2 linked regions of the Homo sapiens genome follow. The protein of the gene in region 1 purifies or fractionates together with the protein of each later gene. This does not show direct contact. Each region holds a gene or a part of one and is shown on either strand. Other genes may lie near its edges.

The links. The genes of interacting proteins can lie anywhere in the genome.
Region 2: the proteins of IPO4 (region 1) and HAT1 purify together in Homo sapiens (affinity purification with mass spectrometry; 2 studies listed by BioGRID, with this or other methods). This does not show direct contact.

The regions. Positions count from the first base shown.
Region 1 is NC_000014.9:24,179,705-24,185,830, reverse strand, and holds the end of IPO4 (importin-4), read left to right. Parts: intron 1-263; coding exon 264-372; intron 373-518; coding exon 519-648; intron 649-850; coding exon 851-964; intron 965-1,067; coding exon 1,068-1,181; intron 1,182-1,412; coding exon 1,413-1,533; intron 1,534-1,721; coding exon 1,722-1,833; intron 1,834-1,932; coding exon 1,933-2,048; intron 2,049-2,163; coding exon 2,164-2,241; intron 2,242-2,317; coding exon 2,318-2,375; intron 2,376-2,475; coding exon 2,476-2,581; intron 2,582-2,661; coding exon 2,662-2,855; intron 2,856-2,988; coding exon 2,989-3,039; intron 3,040-3,407; exon of another isoform or gene 3,408-3,427; coding exon 3,428-3,553; intron 3,554-3,667; coding exon 3,668-3,876; intron 3,877-3,987; coding exon 3,988-4,120; intron 4,121-4,213; coding exon 4,214-4,318; intron 4,319-4,907; exon of another isoform or gene 4,908-5,072; coding exon 5,073-5,142; exon of another isoform or gene 5,143-5,258; coding exon 5,259-5,389; 3' UTR 5,390-5,562; downstream 5,563-6,126. Other genes in the region: meiotic recombination protein REC8 homolog, read right to left, coding at 5,563-6,031, 6,105-6,126. UniProt on the Homo sapiens protein: Nuclear transport receptor that mediates nuclear import of proteins, such as histones, RPS3A, TNP2 and VDR. Serves as receptor for nuclear localization signals (NLS) in cargo substrates.
Region 2 is NC_000002.12:171,925,442-171,932,469, forward strand, and holds part of HAT1 (histone acetyltransferase type B catalytic subunit), read left to right. Parts: intron 1-95; coding exon 96-200; intron 201-7,028. UniProt on the Homo sapiens protein: Histone acetyltransferase that plays a role in different biological processes including cell cycle progression, glucose metabolism, histone production or DNA damage repair. Coordinates histone production and acetylation via H4 promoter binding.

The DNA.
Region 1 (6,126 bases):
TGCCCACAGGGAGGACCATGGCTGTCCTGGTTTACGCTTGTTGTTCAAGCTTATTTATCAACAGCGTTTCCCCCCATTATCAAAAGTGTCCTGGCTTGGAAGATAAATGACATGGCTTACCAGCTATAGGGACCAGGGGCTGCTGCCCACCCTCTGGTGACAGGAAAAGCCTTGGTTTTTCCAGGGAAAATGAAGAGAACAGGTCAGCCTAGGGCTCTCAGGTGTAGCTTCTCAGCCTATGTCCTCTTGTTTGCCCCATCCAGACTGCTGCCCCCACTGCTGCAGATTGTGTGCAAGGGCCTGGAGGACCCCTCGCAAGTTGTACGCAATGCTGCGCTGTTTGCCCTGGGCCAGTTCTCAGAAAACCTACAGGTGAACCAGGCTGAATGTGGGAGCCACCACTTGAATGTCCCCTTCCCCTCATCTTTCATCTCTTCAAGCATCCCTGCTGCCATCAGCACTCTTGTGTGTGCCCGGCAGGTGAACCTGACTCAGGCCCTGCTTGCTCCCTCCCCCAGCCCCATATCAGCAGCTATTCAAGGGAGGTAATGCCACTGCTCCTCGCCTACTTGAAGTCGGTGCCTCTTGGACACACACACCACCTAGCCAAGGCCTGCTATGCCCTGGAGAATTTTGTGGAGAACCTAGGTAGTGATGGCAGTGGGGAGCTTGGGGAAGGGGGATGAGGCGGCGGCTTTGGCTGAATGTACAGGATGTGCATCTCCCTGCATTGCTGCCTGTGGTAGGGGAAAGGGTGTGATGGTGCCAAAAAAAGGTTTCCGCCTGGAGGGAGGTGGGCGTGCAGGTAGCAGACCTGGGTTGGTTGGTAGAGGAGCATCCTTTCCCACAGGGCCCAAGGTGCAGCCCTACCTTCCGGAGCTTATGGAATGCATGCTGCAGCTTCTGAGGAACCCCAGCAGTCCCCGGGCCAAGGAGCTGGCTGTGAGCGCCCTGGGAGCCATTGGTGAGGAGAGAGGCAGGAGGCAGGGATGTGGGGTTCACCCAAAGGCCCTGTGGCTGGTGGTCCCTGCCCTCTCCAGCTCTGATTCTGTCCTTCCATCCTGCAGCTACGGCTGCCCAGGCCTCGCTGCTGCCCTACTTCCCTGCCATCATGGAGCACCTGCGGGAATTCCTGTTAACAGGCCGTGAGGACCTTCAGCCTGTGCAGATCCAGAGCCTGGGTGAGTGAGAGGTTCCCAGGTGGGGCTCCCAGTGCCAGCAAAGGGCTGGTGCTCACCTGGTGTTGACAGATTGCCCCCACAGGAGCACGGATGTCTTCCTTCTCATCAAAGGGGTGTGCTTCATGCTGTACCAAGGGGTGGGGCGGGATTTCTGAATCCCTCCCAGCCACCACCTTTGGTCCCGTAGCCCACCTCCACCTCCTGGTGCTAATGGAGCCCTTGCCCCCACAGAGACACTGGGGGTGCTGGCACGAGCAGTGGGGGAGCCCATGAGGCCGCTGGCTGAGGAATGCTGCCAGCTGGGTCTGGGCCTCTGCGACCAGGTAGACGACCCTGACTTGCGGCGCTGCACGTGAGTGACCCCTCACCCTGCCTCTGCCCTTGTCCCCTCCCCTCCTGTCTTCCCACTGGACCCACTGGAATCCCCACCCCAGACTCCAGTCGTCTGGTTTGGACCATAGCCAGGTGTTCCCGGGCTCCCCCATCCTGCCTGGTGGTAGCAGGCAGGACCTTACAGCTTCTTCTGCCTGCTTTGACCAGGTACAGCCTATTTGCAGCCTTATCGGGTCTGATGGGTGAGGGCCTGGCGCCCCACTTGGAACAGATCACCACGCTCATGCTGCTGTCACTGCGTTCCACCGAGGGCATTGTGGTGAGCAAAGGGTGGGTGGGCTGGGCCAGGCCTGCCCTGCAATGGGATTTATCTCCTGGGCCCAGCTGAGCCAAAGTCCTTGCCGTGCCTCCGCTCCAGCCTCAGTATGACGGGAGCAGCTCCTTCCTTCTGTTTGACGATGAGAGTGATGGGGAAGAAGAGGAGGAGCTCATGGATGAGGATGTGGAAGAAGAGGATGACTCAGAGATCTCAGGGTGCGGAGGGGTGCTCTTCTGATCAGGAATCTAGACTTTGGCTTTAGACAAGGGCCTAGTGCTGGATCTGCTCCTCTTGGTGCCTGATCACCACTGCCTCCCCTTCTTACTCTAGGTACAGCGTGGAGAATGCCTTCTTCGATGAGAAGGAAGACACCTGTGCTGCCGTGGGGGAGATCTCTGTGAACACCAGGTGAGCATTCGCCCTTCCCTGGCACTGAAAACCCTGCCTGGGGGCCCCTTACCCACGGCTGTGTCTCTCTCTGTAGTGTGGCCTTCCTTCCATACATGGAAAGTGTCTTTGAAGAAGTATTTAAACTGCTGGAGGTGAGCGGGCCGGCGGGTGGAGTGGGTGGGGTTCTCAGGCTGGGGGCCCTGTGTTCACGGTGCACATAGCAGACATATCCCGCCCCTCCTCATCCTGCAGTGCCCTCACCTGAATGTGCGGAAGGCAGCCCATGAGGCTCTGGGTCAGTTTTGCTGTGCACTGCACAAGGCCTGTCAAAGCTGCCCCTCGGAACCCAACACTGCTGGTGAGGAGAGGCTGGGCCAGGCTGGGGGTTCTTGGGGAGGGGCAGGGCCTGACTGGTGCTTCAGCCAATAATGTCCCCAGCTTTGCAGGCTGCCCTGGCCCGAGTCGTGCCATCCTACATGCAGGCAGTGAACAGGGAGCGGGAACGCCAGGTGGTGATGGCCGTGCTGGAGGCCCTGACAGGGGTGCTCCGCAGCTGTGGGACCCTCACACTGAAGCCCCCTGGGCGCCTCGCTGAGCTCTGTGGCGTGCTCAAGGCTGTGCTGCAGAGGAAGGTGAGCAGGGCAGGTGGGCTTCGGGAAGGAGAGGTGCTGGGCCTCGGTTGGGGACTGGCTACAAGTCCACCCCCTACCCCCATGAAAAGAGAAGGGGCGTGAAAGCTCCGCTAAGTTGAGCTACTTCTTGTAGACAGCCTGTCAGGATACTGACGAGGAGGAGGAAGAGGAAGATGATGATCAGGTGAGAGCCAGGGATAAAAACGGGGACCAGGCGGTCCAGGCAGTCTCCACAGGGACAGGGGTGGACAGTGTATTTGGGCTTGGCCTGGGGCAGCCAGGGCCACTAAAAGAGACTGGTAATGGCCAGAGGGATACAACCCTGATCCCACTAAGCCAGTGGGAGTTCAGGGAAGGAGAGCAGTGTGGACTGGGGTGTGCTTGGAGTGATAGGTAGGAGCAGAAGAGCCAGGGGAAGAAGCTGGGTCATGGAAACACCCAGCTTGAGAGGGGCCAGCCCTATCAACCAAGGGCAGCCCCAGGGACCCCTGCAGCTGGTGGCAGAGCGTGGGAGGGAGGTGTACAGTCACTGAGCTGGCCCTGGTGCTCCAGCCCCTGACCTGGCTCCACAGGCTGAATACGACGCCATGTTGCTGGAGCACGCTGGAGAGGCCATCCCTGCCCTGGCAGCCGCGGCTGGGGGAGACTCCTTTGCCCCATTCTTTGCCGGTTTCCTGCCATTATTGGTGTGCAAGACAGTGAGTGTCCATCTTCTGGCTTCAAGCCCTAGTCCCCTCGTGCACCCGGTGCCCACCACAGCCTTTATCCTTGGCCCAGGCTGATCTGTACTCCTTCCTGTTCTCCCCCATCAGAAACAGGGCTGCACAGTGGCAGAGAAGTCCTTTGCAGTGGGGACCTTGGCAGAGACTATTCAGGGCCTGGGTGCTGCCTCAGCCCAGTTTGTGTCTCGGCTGCTCCCTGTGCTGTTGAGCACCGCCCAAGAGGCAGACCCCGAGGTGCGAAGCAATGCCATCTTCGGGATGGGCGTGCTGGCAGAGCATGGGGGCCACCCTGCCCAGGAGTATCCTTGGCTCGCAGGACGGGAGGGACTGGAGGTTGGGGGAGTGTCCCCAGGGCTTGCAGGTGGGCAAGGTCTACCTGAGCGTGTGGCCATTCCTTGACTGTGGACCAGACACTTCCCCAAGCTGCTGGGGCTCCTTTTTCCCCTCCTGGCGCGGGAGCGACATGATCGTGTCCGTGACAACATCTGTGGGGCACTTGCCCGCCTGTTGATGGCCAGTCCCACCAGGAAACCAGAGCCCCAGGTGAGGGAGGGAGACATCAGGCAGGGCTTGGAAGCTGAGGAGGGAGGGTGGTGGAGGGCAGGGCAGGTTGGCCTGAGACATTTGTGTGCCCAGGTGCTGGCTGCCCTACTGCATGCCCTGCCACTGAAGGAGGACTTGGAGGAGTGGGTCACCATTGGGCGCCTCTTCAGCTTCCTGTACCAGAGCAGCCCTGACCAGGTAACCTTGCTGCTGGCAGCCCTCAGAGGGGAACGTGCCGCTCCACTCAGTGATAGGCACTGTCTGCTGATGAGGCTCGGGAGCTCCAGGCTGTCAGTTGCACCTGATGCAAGGTGACAGTTTCAGCTGTTCTTTTGGTACTCCCTGCACCATTTCTTATTTGTCTGCAAGGATTGGCAGCCAGTCCTGTGATGGGACAGGAGGGACTTCCTTTCTCCACGTAGCATTTTTCCTGAGGAAGCTCCATTTCTACCCTTTGGTCTGAGCCAGAAGTTGCAGTTTTCCTAGGCTGGTTTCCTAAACCGGGGCCCTTTCAAACTGTGCTCTGTGGAGCCCAGGGTACCTCTGGGCCACCACACCATACATTTCAATCAGATCAGCTCTGCTCTCTGAAGAGATTTTGCCTGTACCAAGTAGCTAGGTTTGGAGTCATGTCAGAGTGTTTGTGTCACCCTTGTCTTATACCTTTAGAGACTGTTGTGTAGGTGAAGCTCCTGAGTGTCTGGGTTTCTTTAGGTCTTGAGGCTATGACTTTAATCATCTTGTCCCACATCCCCCATTCCCTCCAAAAAAAATCATTAGCACCAAGTTTCATTGGTTCTTCTCATGTTCATAGTTGTCTTGGATGCCTGTGAATCAGTACCAGGTGCAACCACCCCCCTGATAAGAGATTCTGCCACTCCTTGGTCCTGACCACCCTCCTAGACCTGGGGTCTGGGGCTGCTGCCCTGAGTCAGCCACTCTTTCCTCACAGGTTATAGATGTGGCTCCCGAGCTTCTGCGTATCTGCAGCCTCATTCTGGCTGACAACAAGATCCCACCAGGTGAGGGTAGGAGTCATAGGCAGGGGCTTGCGGGAGGCTGGGAGTGGCAGGGCTCAGAGAGCCTGGGGCAGCGAGGCTTTAGGAGCCCCGACCTTTCTCCCTCCCTCTCCACCCAGACACCAAGGCCGCACTGTTGCTGCTCCTGACGTTCCTGGCCAAACAGCACACCGACAGCTTTCAAGCAGCTCTGGGCTCACTGCCTGTTGACAAGGCTCAGGAGCTCCAGGCTGTACTGGGCCTCTCCTAGACTGCAGGCTGCAGCCAGTCCAGAGAGAATAGAGCCTGCCCAGGCCTTAAGACCACCTCTCAGCCCAGTTCAGTTCTGCCTTACCAAAGATTCTGAGACTCATACCCATTTGGAGCCAGCCCCACTTGCTGCCTTACAGGGCTGTCCCTGAGGCTGGATCTGTTACAAATGAGTCATGACATCATACTGTAATAAAAGCAGCTTGTTTTCTGCTTGAACAATAGCTCTGAGAGCAAGAAGGCTGGAAATGCACATTCAGAAATGAGGTAAGCAGGACCCAGTGAGGCACGACGTGGTTTACTAGAAGTGGCCGGTTTCCTGGCAGCTTTGTAAATGGACTCTAACCTCAGTGGAATCTGGGCCCCGGCTGGATCAGGAGGCGACCATATGGCTTTTCTTGTTTCACGTGAAGAATCTGTTGCGCTGAGAGCACTGGTCAAGAGGCGAGGAGAGGGCAGGTCGGGGGAGTCCCTGTACGGGCCTCTGGTCTCTGTGTCCCTGCCCCACATACACACACACACATGCATACACTCACCCAGGAGCAGGTAGAAGACCCGGGCAGCCATCCTGCGGGGGCTGAGAGGTGACACCAGGCTGCTGAAGTCGGGCTCCCTGTTAGCCTGCAGCTCCAGTGCCACTGCCCTATAGGGATCAAGAACCATTAGCAGAGGCTTCAGCCCGGGTCCACCCCATCAAGGTGCCACCTCCCTGGTACCTGTGCACTGCTTCCAGTGAGA
Region 2 (7,028 bases), on another chromosome or scaffold:
AAATCATACCCCTATTCCACTTATAATAACCCTATTGCAGGTTTGACAATTTAAGTCACTTCCAAACTAAACCTTTTAAAAACCTTTTCTCTTAGGATTTGGTGCTATGGAGAAATTTTTGGTAGAATATAAGAGTGCAGTGGAGAAGAAACTGGCAGAGTACAAATGTAACACCAACACAGCAATTGAACTAAAATTAGGTATGTATGCCATTTCTAAGTGATGTTATGTACATACTGTGTGTGTATATATAATCTTTCATTTTAAATTTGAAGTAAAATTTTATGTAAGAGCAGTTATTTATGCAAATGTATGGTTTTCTGCATTTATTGAACATATTCAGATTTTATTCAGTTTTGATTTATGTCATGGAAGGTGTAGATGTTTGAAAGGTGACAGAATTTTATATAAAAAGGAAAGACGGTGGGGCAAAAAGTAATAAGTATATATAGTTTTAGCCTCTTAAAAATATTTTTTACTTTTTTGCCTGTAAGAATAATAAACAATAGCAAATATTGGTGAGGATGTGGAAAAAAACACTTGTATATTGCTGGTGGGAATGTAAAGTGATATAACTATTTTGGAAAACAGTTTGGCAATTTTCTTTTCTGTCTTTTTTATTTTCTTTCCTTCCTTCTCTTCTTTCATTTCCTCCCCTCACCCCTTTTTTTTCTTTCTTTCTTTTTTAAAGAGACAAGGAAGGTCTCACTCTATCACCCAGGCTGTAGTGCCACGGCATGGTCATAGCTCACTGCTGCCTCCAACCCCTGGGCTCAGGCAGTCCTTCTGCCTCAGCCTGCCAGGTAGCTAGGAGACCACAGGTGTGCACCACCCAAGCCTGGCTAATTTTTATAAAAAATTTTTTTTTTGAGACGGAGTTTCACTCTTGTTGCCCAGGCTGGAGTGCAATGGCGTGATCCTGGCTCACTGCAACCTCCACCTCCTGGGTTCTAGTGATTCTCCTGCCTCAGCCTCCCGTGTAGCTGGGATTACAGGCATGCGCCACCACGCCCGGCTAATTTTTTGTATTTTTAGTAGAGACGGTTTCTCCATGTTGGTCAGGCTGGTCTTGAACTCCCAACCTCTGGTGATCTGCCCACCTTGGCCTCCCAAAGTGCTGGGATTACAGGCATGAGCCACCACGCCTGGCTTATAAAAATTTTTTCATAGAGATGGACCCTACGTGTCTATGTGTCCAGGCTCATCTTGAACTCTTGTCTTCAAGCAGTCCCCTGGCTTGGCCTCCCAAAGTGTTGGGATTATAACTGTGAGCCACAGCGCCCCTCCTGGTTTGACAGTTTCTTAAGAAGTTAAACATAAATGAATTATATGACCCAGGAGTTATACTGCCAGGTATCTGTCTACTCAAGAGAAATGAAAATGTATGTTCACGCAAAAACTTGTACATGAATGTTCATAGCTGCGTTATTCACAGTAGCCAAAAAAATGTAAGAAACCCAGATATATATCAGCTGGTAAATGAATAAAGTATAGTATAGCTATACCACGGAATACTATTTGACAATAAGAAGGAATGAAATTCTGATACCTATTGCAGTAAACCTTAAAAAGATTGTGCTAAGTGAAAGAAACTAAACAAAAACACCATATATTGTGTAATTCCATTTGTATGAAATGTTCAGAAAAGACACATCCATAGAGACAGAAAGTAGTGGTTGCACAGTGGAGCGCAGAGTAACTACAAATGGGCCTGACATTTCTTTTGGGAATTATGGAAATGTTTGAAAGTTAGATTGTGGCACAGCTCTGAATTTGCTAAAATTTTACACTTAGAACAAGTGAAAAATAATATATGCTCATGATTCCTGGTTGCATTACTTTCCATGCCTGAGTTTCCTCATTGTTAATAGTACTTCACAGTGGTTACAAAGATTAAATATGGAGTTAAATATCAGTAAAGTGTTTAAACTCCTTGACATGCAGAAAATACTTGGTAAGGGCTGAGTGGAGTGACTGGATGTGGTTGCTGAGATCTGCGTATTTTTTTTACATGTCCCCTCATTTTTCAATTACTTCATTCTTTGATAGTTTGATTACCTTGGAACATCCTGTCATCTGTTGTCTCTGCCCCAGCCTTGGAATCAGCCATTTCTCCAAGGATCCCTGGTTTCTTTTAGTAGGAAATGTTATTTTATTTTATTTTAGAGACAGAGTCTCACTCAGTCGCCCAGGTAGAGTGCAGTGGTGCGATCTTGGTTCACTGCAACCTCTGCCTCCCAGATTCAAGTAATTCTTGTGCCTCAGCCTCCGTAGTAGCTGGGATTACAGGCATGTGCCACCAGCCCTGGGTAATTTTTTTGTGTTTTTAGTAGAGATAGGGTTTCGCCATGTTGGTCAGTCTGTCTCAAACTGACCAAGTGATCCACCTGCCTCGGTCTCCCAAAGTGCTGGAATTACAGGCATGAGCTACTGCACCCAGCCAGGAAATGGTTTTTTATTTTGAGATGGAGTCTCACTCTTGTCACCCAGGCTGGAGTGCAATGACGCGGTCTTGGCTCACTGAAACCTCTGCCTCCTGGGTTTAAGTGATTCTGGTGCCTCAGCCTCCCAAGTAGCTGGGATTACAGGCACCCGTCACCACACCCAGCTGATTTTTGTATTTTTAGTAGAGACGGTTTCATCATGTTGGCCAGACTGGTCTCGAACTCCTGACCTCAGGTGATCTGCCCACCTTGGCCTCCCAAAGTGCTGGGATTACAGGCATGAGCCACCACCCCCAGCCACAGGAAATGATATTTTAAAGCCAAGATTCGGGTGCTAAAGCCAAGATCTAGGTGCTAGGTGAACACATTGCTGTTAGTATTGCTCTAGCATTAATGAGAGCAGGCTTAGTAGATAGAACTTTATTACTTACTGTTCAGTCCCTGCCACCTGCAAGGTGACTACAGTCTCATTTCTTTGACCAAAATTAGCTTTCTGTGTTCTAGCACTTTATATAAATGGAATTATACCATATATACTGGCTTTGTGACTGGCTTGTTTCATTAAGCATAATTTTTATGAGGTACATCATATGTTGTCTGTACCAGTAGTTCATTCCCCATTTTTTTTGTTGTTGTTGTTTGAGACAGAGTCTCACGCTGTTGCTTGGGCTGGAGTGCAGTGGCATGATTGCGGCTCAATGCGATCTCCACCTTCTGGGTTCAAGCGATTCTCCTGCCTCAGCCTCTGGAGTAGCTGGGATTACAGGCGCCTGCCACCACGCCTGGCTAATTCTTTTGTATTTTTAGGAGAGACGGAGTTTCACTATGTTGGCCAGGCTGGTCTCGAACTCCTGGCTTCATGATCGCCTGCCTTGGCCTCCCAAAGTGCTGGGATTACAGGCGTGAGCCACCGTGCCCGGCAGTTCATTCCTTTTTATTGCTGAATACTGTTCTGTTGTTGGATACATCATTATTCGCCAGTTAATAGATATTTGAGTTGTTTCTAGTTTTTGGCTGTTATTGTATGAGTTTTTTTGTGGACATATGATTTTATTTTGGATAAATTCCTAGCTGTGGATTTGCTGGGTCAATAGGGTATTTGTATGTTTAACTTTATGGGATACTTGGCCAGACTGACTTCCAAAGTACTTTTATACTCACATCAACAGTGTATTAGAATTTTCGTTATTCCATATCCTCACCAACATTTTATGTTGTCAGTTTTTAAAGTTTTAGGCATTCTACTGGGTTTATAGTAGTATTTCTTTGTTAATAGTACTTCATAGTGGTTGTAAAGATTAAATAGGTTTTAATTGTCTTTTCCCTCATAACTAATGCTATTAAGGATTGTTTTTTTAATGTGGTTATCGACTATCTCCTTTTGGACTCATGTATTCACATCTTTTGCCCATTTTAAAATTAGGTTATTTGTCTTTTTGTTATTAGTTGTAGGTGTTATTTACCTACATATTCTGGATGAGTCCTTTATGCAGATTACATGTTTTGTGCACATTTTTCTCTCAGTTTGTGGTTTGCCTGTTCATATTCTCAACTTTTTTTGTATAACTGGAAGTTTTTAGTTTTAATCATGTCCAGTTTATTAATTTTAAAAATTTCTATTAGTGTTTTCTGGTTCATGCCTAATATCTTTGTCTACCCCAAGGAGATCATGAAGCTCTCCTAATGTTTTCTTCTGGAAGGTTTTTAGTTTTAGCTTATTAAAATTATGTCCATGATCCATCTCATGTTATTTTTCATGTCCAATATGAGGAAAGGGATTAAGGTTTGTTGTTCCATGTGGATATCCACTTGTTTCAGTATAATTTGTGTGAATGCCTTGGTGCGTTTTTAACAAAAAAATATTGAACTTACACGTGTGGATCTACATCTGGACTTTTCTCATTCATTGTCTGTTTTTCTGTCAATATCGTACTGTCTGGATTAGTGTAACTTTCTATTGATTCCTGGTAGTGTGAGTCCCACATCTTTATTTTTTAAAGATTGTTTCGATTATTCTTGACCTTATTTCTGTATACATTTTGGAATCAGGTGGTTAATTTCTATTTAAAAAGTTCTGACTAATCTTAAGATTACATTGAATCTAAAATTGAATGTGGGGAGAATTGCTATCTTAATAACATTGAGCCTTCCAGTATATGAACATGATGTATTTCTGTATTCTAGAAATGTTTCAGGTTTTCAGTCTTGCATGTATTTTGTTAAATTTATCTGAGTAAATCTACATCTTTTGATTTTTGATGCTCTTAAAAATGGTATACTTTTTTATTTATTTATTTTTGTATGTGTGACATGTTCTCACTTTGTCACCGAGGATGGAGTGCAGTAGCGTGATCTCCACTCACTGCAACCTCTGCCTCCGAGCTCAAGTGATCCTCTTACCACAGCTTCCCGAGTAGCTGGGACTCCGCATACACCACCATGCCTGGCTAATTTTTGTATTTTTTGTAGAGACAGGGTTTCGCCTTGTTACCCAGACTGGTCTTGAACTTCTGGGTTCGAGTGATCTGCCCACCTAGGCCTCCCAAAGTGCTATTACAGATGTGAGCCACTGTGCCTGACCTAAAAATGATATACTTTAAACATTTTCTCTTCCAATTGCTTGTTTTATGTGTGTGCATGTGCATATGCATGGACACACAATGGCACAGTTTGTGTAATTGTTTTGTATTCTGCAACCTTGCTAAATTCACTTATTATTGTAGTTTTTTGTATTCTGGGCTTTTTCTGAGAGAGTGGCTCACTCCATTGCCAAGGCTGGAGTAGAGTGGCGTGATTGTGGCTCACTATAGCCTTGACTTCCCAGGCTCAAGCGAACCTCCCACCTCAGCCTCCTGAATAGCTGGGACTATAGGTGCGTGCCACCATGCTTGGCAAAATTTTTTTTTTTTTCTAGGGACAGGGCCTCACTATATTGCCCATGCTGGTCTTGAACTCCTGGGCTCAAGCAATCCTCTTGCCTCAGCTTCCCAAAGTGCTAGGGTTGCAGACATAAGCCACCACACCCAGCTATAGGATTTTTTTTTTTAGATGTAGATTATTTCAGATTTCCTGCACACAAACATTACCTGTTAATGAAGAAAGTCACAGTTTTTCTTTGCCTTATACAGTTGTCCATTGGTATCTTCAGGGATTTGGTTCCACGATCCCCCGTGAATACCAAAATCTGCCGATGATCCGGTCCATTATACAAAATGCCATAGTGTGGCTGGGCATGGTGGCTCACATCTGTAATCTAGCACTTTGGGAGGTTGAGGCAGGCAGATTGCTTGAGCCCAGGAGTTTGAGACCAGCCTGAGCAACATGGCAGAACCCCATCTCTACAAAAAATACAAGAATTAGCCAGGCATGATGGTGTGCATCTGTAGTTGCTACTCAGGAGGCTGAGGTGGGAGGATCTGCCTGAGCCCAAGAGTTCTAGGCTGCAGTGAGCTGTGATTGTGCCACTGCACTCCAGTGTGAGTGACAGAGTGAGACCCTGTCTTGATAGATAGATAGCCATATAGCCGGGCATGGTGGCTCACGCCTGTAATACCAGCACTTTGGGAGGCTGAGGCAAGAGTTCGAGAAGACAAGCCTGGTCAACATGGTGAAATTCCGTCTCTACTAAAAATACAAAAATTAGCTGGGCGTGATGGCACACACCTGTAATCCCAGCTACTTGGGAGGCTGAGGCAGGAGAATTGCTTGAGCCCAGGAGGTGGAGGTTGCAGTGAGCCGAGATTGTGCCACTGCACTCCAGCCTGGGCGACAAAGCAAGACTGTGTCTCGGGGGGGAAAAACAGCCATATAGTACAGTCAGCTCTTTGTATCTGCAGATTCTGTGTTTGAGGATTCAGCCAATCTCATGTTGATCCGTAATTGGTTGAATCAGTGGATGTGGAACCTGCATATGTGGAGAGCCACTTGTGTTTCATTTTCTTGCCTTACTGCACTGGCCAGAACCTCTATTACAATGTCAAATGGAAGTGATAGAGTAGACATCCTTGCCTTATTCCCAATTGAAGAAGGAAAATTTTGAGCCTTTCACCATTCACTATGATGTTAGCTGTAGGTTTTTCATATGTGCCCTTTATCAGGTTGAGGAAGTTTCCTTCTATTCCTAGTTTGGTGAGAGTTTTTATTATGAAAGTGTTACCTTCTAATGCTTTTTCTTTATCAAGATAATCATAAGATTTTTCTCCTTTAATTCTGATAATGTGGTGAATTACATTGATGAGGTTTTAAGTGTTAAATTAGCCTTGCATGCCAGTATATTATCCTTTTTCTGCTTTGCTAGATTTGACTTGGCAATGTTTTGTTAAGACTCTTTGTTCATGACAGGTAATGGTTTCTTTTTTCATACGTCTTTGCTTGATTTTGGTATCAAGGTTTCCTGGCCTCATAAAATGAGTTGGGAACTGTTTCTTCTCTATCTTCTGGAAGAATTTGTATAAGACTGCATTATTCCTTTAAATGTTCAGTAGCATTCACCAGTGAAGTTTTATGTGCCTTGAGTTTTCTTTGTTGGAAGGTTTTTAACTATACATCTAATAAATAGATTTAATACTGTTCTGATCTTCTGTT